Homo sapiens: one gene and its partner. The protein of the gene in region 2 interacts with the protein of the main gene of each other region in a biochemical or structural test. Each region holds a gene or a part of one and is shown on either strand. Other genes may lie near its edges.

Region 1 (3,753 bases), on a different chromosome or scaffold from region 2:
TATTTTAAACACACATCATTTTTTAAGGAATTGACAAATGAGACTAATGTACATTCCCTGTCTGACAACACAGAACGAACCAGGAAGAAAGGATTTATGGGGCCTGAGGTTATACAATTGGGGGTGCTATTTTAAGAAAAATAATAGAAAATTGGATACAGCCTTGGGAGGGGCCCCTCATGTAAGTAAGGCTTTAATAGTTTCTTGGGAAATCACCTCTGTATGAAGAGATGTGTTGACATTTAATCTTTTCCCAGTTACATTTTAAAATAAAATTGATGCTAGTTATATTTCTTTAGAGCATTTATTATTTCTCAAAGACAACCTTTTATTTAATGCAGATTAGAGAGTTAAAAGAATTTATAATGGTAGGAATTTGACATTTCTGCCTTTCATTCTGAAAAGATACATTGATTAAAGTGATGTCAAACTCAGTTAATGGAGGCGGTGCAGTTATTTGAAATATACAGGGTATATAATTTGAAGGCACGCCAAATCACAATGACAAGGAATAATGATGACCTTGGTTTATTTTTATACAGTACATTCAGGTTTTGATTGGATTCAGAGAGAGGCAATGGTTTTCTTTCTCACAAAGTCCTGCTATAGTCCTAGGAGGTTTGTGTTCTGTTATCAAGGCAGTTGGTTCGTATTGGAATATTTTCTGGGGAAGGTCATGGGCTGCAGTGTGGGAAATAAACGTTTTTATTAAATGCAACCAGGTTTCATGAAAATATTTCCCCTTGTAGAGTGTGCTCAATGCAGTATACTGATCTTCAAAAAACAAACAAACCAAGCAAATAAATAGTTTGTAGTCTTCACCTTTTCCCTACGTAAAACATCTATTAGTTAGACTTCCTTGGGGTTTCATGCTATAAAATATTGACATATGTTTGGAGTTCTGAAGTTTCATTTTAATACAGATATCAAAGTTAAAATGGCAACACCATGGGATAATTTATTATTTTACCAAGTTTGGAGGGTTTTTTCTATTTATGTCACTTATAGAATTGTCCCTAAAATCCTTGCAAAATTTCAAGCTCCCTCTACTTAATACTAAAAGTGAATGTGTCTTCCAGAGATTCTGATAACCCCTTCGAATGGGAGAGTAACTCTGCTATTTGTGAATCACTCCTATACTAAATATAGTTCCAAGATTAAAAGCTAAAATGATTTTGTTTATTTTTTCATGAAATTTTTTCATGAAAGGCTTGATAGTATAAAAAGTCTGTTTCCCTCATATATTACAGCATATTATAGCATTCAATGTGCCTTCTTAAACCAGATGGCTCCTCTAGAGATTATGAAATACTTTAACACCCAGGGCATAGCCTTTCTGTTTCCCCATTCAAGATTACTTCCTTGAATATGGCCCAACAAAAAGACCAAAAAAATACATTTGGCTCCAGCGTTTTAAGGGCATATAAATTTTCTTAAGCACAATTCTGATAGGCAGCAGACAAATGAGAATGAGGAAGGGAAATGGCTCTGCTGTCTTATGCTTAAAAGTGTCCTCATATAGAGAGAAACAACACACCCTGGGGCCTTTCGGAGGGTAGAGGGTTGGAGGAGGAAGAGGATCAGGAAAAGCAACTAATGGGTACTAGGCTTGATACCTGGGTGATGAAATAATCTGTACAGCAAACCCCTATGGCACAAGTTTACCTATGTAACAAACCTGCACTTGTAGCCCTGAACTTAAAAGTTAAAAAAAAATAAAATAAAAAGAGTCCTCATCTCACGGCCATACAACCTCTACCTCATTCCCATTAAAAACACAAAGATCAGTACTCCCTCTTTTATAGCTCACATCTTCTGTTTAGGCTGCCATTTTAAGGGATAATTTCTATTCAACTCTGAGCTCGATCTTTATTTTAATCTGATATCACTCGTTCAAAATACTTGGGAATTTCAGTAGGCAACGGAACACACAGAGCAATTTTCTGGAGGCCTACAACCTCTGAAGGTGACTTTGCGTAGTATATGTAATGATAGTAAGCCCTGAGAAAACCAATGTTCTTAGTAGTCTGGATTTGGTTTAGAAATCAATGTATTCCTGCTTTCTTTTGTGATCTTTTGCCTTCTCCCTCAATGCCTCACTTTCACTCTGTCATTATGAACCCCATTCCTCACTAATGGGAACTGGGGGAGAATGGACAATGATCCTTTAATTGAAATGGAGTTGTCATTTCCTTGCCATGCTGATAAAATGTTGTTGCTGTTGTTGTTTGTTGTTGTTCTTAAATGACTCTTTCAGAATTTTTAACTCAGTATTTTGATTACATACCATTTTAAGAAAATAATTGTCCATAAATTAAAAATGCTAGCAAATTGATGAATTGATTTTCTCATGCCAATTTGGAAATCTGAAATATATCTAAGACTGGTGAATAATATGTAGGTCTAATTGCCATTTGAATAAAAGAATCTGAGGAAGAGCTTTGCCTTTATTTTTGTTTATTATTCATTTTAGTTTAGTTATTTATTTTAGTAGAAAAATGTGGTTGTGTCAACGAAGAGGAGGTACATTAAAATGCATTATTAAAGCCAATGCTTATCCATGTAATGAAATGAGAATGTAGATGGCTTAATGGGTTTTGGAGAGGATTAAGATAATTTTAAAGAAACTTCAAAAAATCAGATGCTCGAATCATGATGTTTTTTGTTTATATTTAATAAATATGAAAACCATACATGGGCATATCAACAATGAGGAATTCACATATATATCACGAAGTCTCTTGCTAATTTGTCAACTTTTAAATGTGTTGTCTTCACTATCATGAAAATTTTGATTTTTAAAAAAGGTCAGTGTTAGCTGAGCACAATTACCATTACGGTGTCCCATATTATTTCCAATTATGGGCAAATAAAATGCTTACCCTTTAAATGTTTTTACCCTCTTCTTGGCTTTTGTTTTGTTTTGTTTTAAAGCGTTCTCCCTTCTTCCACTCTGCTTTTGGCTAAGACTGTCATGGAATCAGGACTATAAAAGGGCATAAACATCAGTAGCTTTTTTCTCATTCCTGGCACTCATCTTTATTTGCACTCAACTTGTCTCTTCCTTTATCAGATTACGGTTGCAATAGTACCTTAGCCTGAGCTAAGTGCTGACTTAAAGGGCAAGGGAGTCAGTACACTGTTACAAGTGCAGATTTTAGCCTTGGAAGCTGTGTGAGGAAAAATTAAAGAAATAAGAAAGAAAAATCACAAAATCAGAATGGCCCACGTATTTTCATCAAAGGCAAATTGAGTAATTCCTTTTTATGTTGGTGCTTAAGAACGATGTATTAGAAATAAATTGGTGACTAAGTGAACAAAATATTAATAAACTAGTTGAGTAAGTGAAAAAATAATAATCTGTAAAAATGATGAATCCCAATGACTCACATGTTGCAAAATAACTAGGAAGCAAAAGGGAAATTAGACTTTAAAGAGCGTAATCAGATGCAAGAAATGTTGGCTTGTAGGTGGTTAACTAAAATCGCTTACGGGAAGCTCAGACAGCTGGGGAATCCTGATTTAGTAGACGCTGAAGGGCAGGGCATGAGCCATGTGAACAGCTGCTGAAGAGCTAGAGGATTCCTTTGGATTAGGTGTACACACCCCGTCTCTAATGGGCTGTCAGAGAGCACCAAGTGTTATCACAGAGGTTCACTTTGCTCAAGCCTATGGCTTTTGCAGTGTTTTACTTTAAATGTCTGAAAATGGATTGGCTCTCAAAATAAATCCAAAAATAAAAGTATCAAAATA
Region 2 (3,753 bases):
GGTTTGTTTCTGAGATAAGAACACTTAACATGTGGACTCTTGACACTCTCCTTGGATCTCTTAATTTGATTGCTGTTGCTGTCACCACATTGACTTCCTAGCCCTGCTGATCCTCCTTTATCACTAGCTCTAGAAAAAAAAACAAACCAAACACCACTAATTCATTTATTCAGTAATTCAACAAAAAAACCATTGAGCACTTAATATTTGCAGAATACATGGCTAGATGCAGAGGATTCAAAGAATTGAGTGAAGTCACATAAAGTGTTAAGAACAGTGTGTGATACAAACATGAAATATGTTAGCTGTTAGAATTTCAAACTCACTTCCATATCAATTATAATAAGGATTTCCATAAATAGCAGAATAGTATTTCTATTAGATGCTCACAGATGCTAATAAAACAGTAGAATGGTAAAAACCATGCATCCCCCAAGGCAAGAGAAGGTGAGCTATTTTGCCTCGGTGGCTCAATATTCCATCAATGGGTCCTGCTTTAAACTGCAAGTACCTGCCTTCCTTCTTTCAACAGACTGACTCCACGTTGCTTTAGGAAAGATTCACTGAAACAAAGGAATAAACCACCCAAGATATAGTGTTTTTAAAAACATTTTTTAATGAAGAAATTATTCCACTCCAAAATATAGACACACAATTAAATAGTTTAATCACTTCAAAATATAACATGTCCCCAGGAGGTTCCAACACACACACACACACACACACACAAAACAATACTTAACAGCAATACAAAAATCCATACAATAGTATTTTTTTTTTACAATACCAATGAATATTGTGAAATCTTTAGTGTCTCTGAATTGATTATTTCAAATGGTGTCAAATTGCAGTAGTCATAATTAAAAATGTCTTACAGTTAATTCGCCTCAAGATGCAACACTTCTGATTTTTTTTTCTCTTTTTGGTTCAAAAGTAAAAATGCCCTTTCTTCTAAGGACAGTGGAGTTCTCACTTGTGGCTCCTTGCGTGGAATCGAACCAAGGGGAATGCAGCAACCAAAGGTTGCTGGATTTACAAGATCTATCTACGGTTAACAGCCAAGAACTAATAAGGGTGGACAAAGATGATCAAAATAAAAGCAGACATCAGTGCTAAATTATGATGCAACAGTTTGGCTCATGCATATAAGAAAATACATAGTATATCACAACAAAGGCCACACACTCTTAATGCAATTCAGTTCACATTACTACTTACAAATGAACCTTCCCTGCCTTATAGTAGATCATTCAAGAACCCATTTTTCACAATCTCCAGCACAACTCCCTCTGACCAACCAAACTTACCCCAACTTCCGTCCTGACCAACCACAACTGTTTCCTGAATCCCATGCAGTAGATTTCACCTTCCTCCCCTCCTCCATTAATATGGCGCTGTGGAGGAGGGTTGGCTGTGTTAGACCAGTGCTTATTAACAGGCTATCAGCTCTGATGGAGATGGATGTGCAATTCATTGTGGAACAAGAAAGAAACAACCCCCGCAAGATGTAGTTGTATCTAATGGACAGGACAAGTGAAACTTGCTGGGTTTGCACTTAGAACAGGCCCCAAAAGTAAATCTGGAGAGCCAAGGAAAGAAACCCACCAAAAAACACAAAACCCCAAAATAACACACGCCATTTTGTCTCGCTTACAGGACAGGGGTGCTCGAGTCTGGTCTCAGTGCTGACGTGGAGCTAAGAGAGAGAAAAGGTGGCTGGTTAGTCAGAAATTGGTCATTGGCGGCAGTTTCCAGAGTCCTTGCAATGGCTTTATATGACGATATCAACAACCATGTGATGGAGTTGGTTGGCAATGAAATAGCTATGACAACGGGGAAGGTTATCAGCAGAACAGTTCAAATCTTAGACGAACATTTTGATGTAGAAACACAAAGAAACAACATATGCCAGCTCGGTCCAGTCAGTGGTGGAGTGCCACGTGCAGGATTTAAGTTCTGAGTTCAAGAACTACCTGGCTATGATTTTGAGCTGACAGCATTATAGGTAGCTGGGATGTAGTGGTTTTCAATACTGAGTATGAGGCACCAGTGGCCACCTGCTCCATCTAGAGAGGTATGGGTTCACAGAGGATGGGCAGTGGAAAAGAGATGAACATTAAGACACCCCAACAAAACCCGCAATAAAAATCAATCTGTGCAAAGAAATCTGAGAACTGTGCAGTTGTGCCACTTTGGTGTCAGCCTGTGCTCAGAGACATTTGTCAGGTGAGTTCTCTGGAGAGATATATGATTAAGTATGTCAAGGGATAGGATGGGCTTCTCACTAATGCCAATTGAGCACTTTATCCCCAAGGCAAGTGATTTGGTTTCAAAGGGCAGCCAAGGAGATGATGTCTGACCAAACGCAGACATGTGAACATCGTACAGCCGCCCTCTGCAGAGGGGGCATGAAGATGTCAGGACTTGGCTGGGCACCTACCAACTACGAACTTGGTGTGTGGGTTCAGAGAAGGTTTTTGCCAGCCCCAGAAGCAAAAGTGAATCACAGAACCTTTCTTGCTTATTCTGAATAAGGCCTTTTCAGAGACTTTATTATACGACTTCATTCTAAAGCAGTAGTTCTCAACCTTTAGCGAGCATCAGAATCACCTAGAGGGTTGACTAAAACAGACTTCTGGACCCAACCCCCAGAGCTTCTGATTCAGTAGGCCTGAGGTGGGGCTTACAAATTAGTATTTCGAAGACCTTCCTAAGTGTTGCAGATGCTGCTTGTCCGGGGAACACACTTTGAGAACTATTGTTCTAAAATGTTCTCTCCTTTCTTTTAAAGGAGAGACAGGAATTCCAGAGAAACTGCTAATTTAAGCATAATGTATTGAATAGGTCGCAGGCTTTTTTAAAAAAATCAAATCTTGAAGCAAGTAGAAGATTACTTTTTCTTTTTCCCCAGAATTCCCAAAGGAGGTCTTTAGGGCCCTCTAAAGAGGGTCCTTGGAAAAGACTATCCCAGTCTTTTATCCTCTTGTCTTTGATAGCTCTTTTGCACTTCAGCTTTTCACTGAGTGCAAAAATCCCAACTCAACTTAGAAGAGCCTGTCTCCTTTCACATGACCACAGAAGGCTACATGCAGAACACCAGGTGGCCAGCTAAGGCAATCAACATTCAGAAAAAAAGGAGAGCAAACGTTTGCAAGCGCACTTTAAGCCTGTACATTTAAAGCTGAAGGCCTCCAAACAACTTGATGGGGGAACTTGTGAACGAGCGGTGCTGTTAAAGACATGCTTCCTAAAGCCAAAACGAGAGGAACAAGACCATGGAAGAGCAGAGATAACTTTAGTCCGTTTGGGGATCTTATGGCACCTGTGGTTTATAAACAGCTTTAGTAACGAGTATTTCAAAACATAGTTCACAGTTTTTAAGAAGATCTGTGCTGATTTTAAAAACTAGATTCTATATAATTTGAATGCTGCCTTTTTTGAATATGATATCTATTTGGAAAAAAAAATATTTACACTAAATTCTATGGCTGATTAGAGTATCTTGAAAGAAAACAACCTCGAGTTGGAAAGAGGCCCCAAAGAATGGATTATTCCTGGTGTGTTTGGTTCAAGTCACTGCTCACAGAGACTTGGAGTCAACTACAGACCGTGCAGGCCAAGGACCCTTCTTGGCTTCCGGGCTCTGAGTTTGTACACTCAGGAACCAAATTCTTCAGGGTTATTGAATGATTGCAAGTGGTTGTTTTTTTCCAATTGCTGTGAAAAAAATGTACAGTGTATAATAAACTGTTT

The links. The genes of interacting proteins can lie anywhere in the genome.
Region 1: the proteins of DTNA (region 2) and DMD form a complex in vitro, tested with the Homo sapiens proteins (3 studies listed by BioGRID and IntAct, with this or other methods).

What each region holds. Positions count from the first base shown.
Region 1 is NC_000023.11:33,204,833-33,208,585, reverse strand, and holds part of DMD (dystrophin), read left to right. Parts: intron 1-3,753. UniProt on the Homo sapiens protein: Anchors the extracellular matrix to the cytoskeleton via F-actin. Ligand for dystroglycan.
Region 2 is NC_000018.10:34,888,243-34,891,995, reverse strand, and holds the end of DTNA (dystrobrevin alpha), read right to left. Parts: 3' UTR 1,697-3,753; coding exon of another isoform or gene 1,556-1,696; 3' UTR 152-1,555; downstream 1-151. UniProt on the Homo sapiens protein: May be involved in the formation and stability of synapses as well as being involved in the clustering of nicotinic acetylcholine receptors.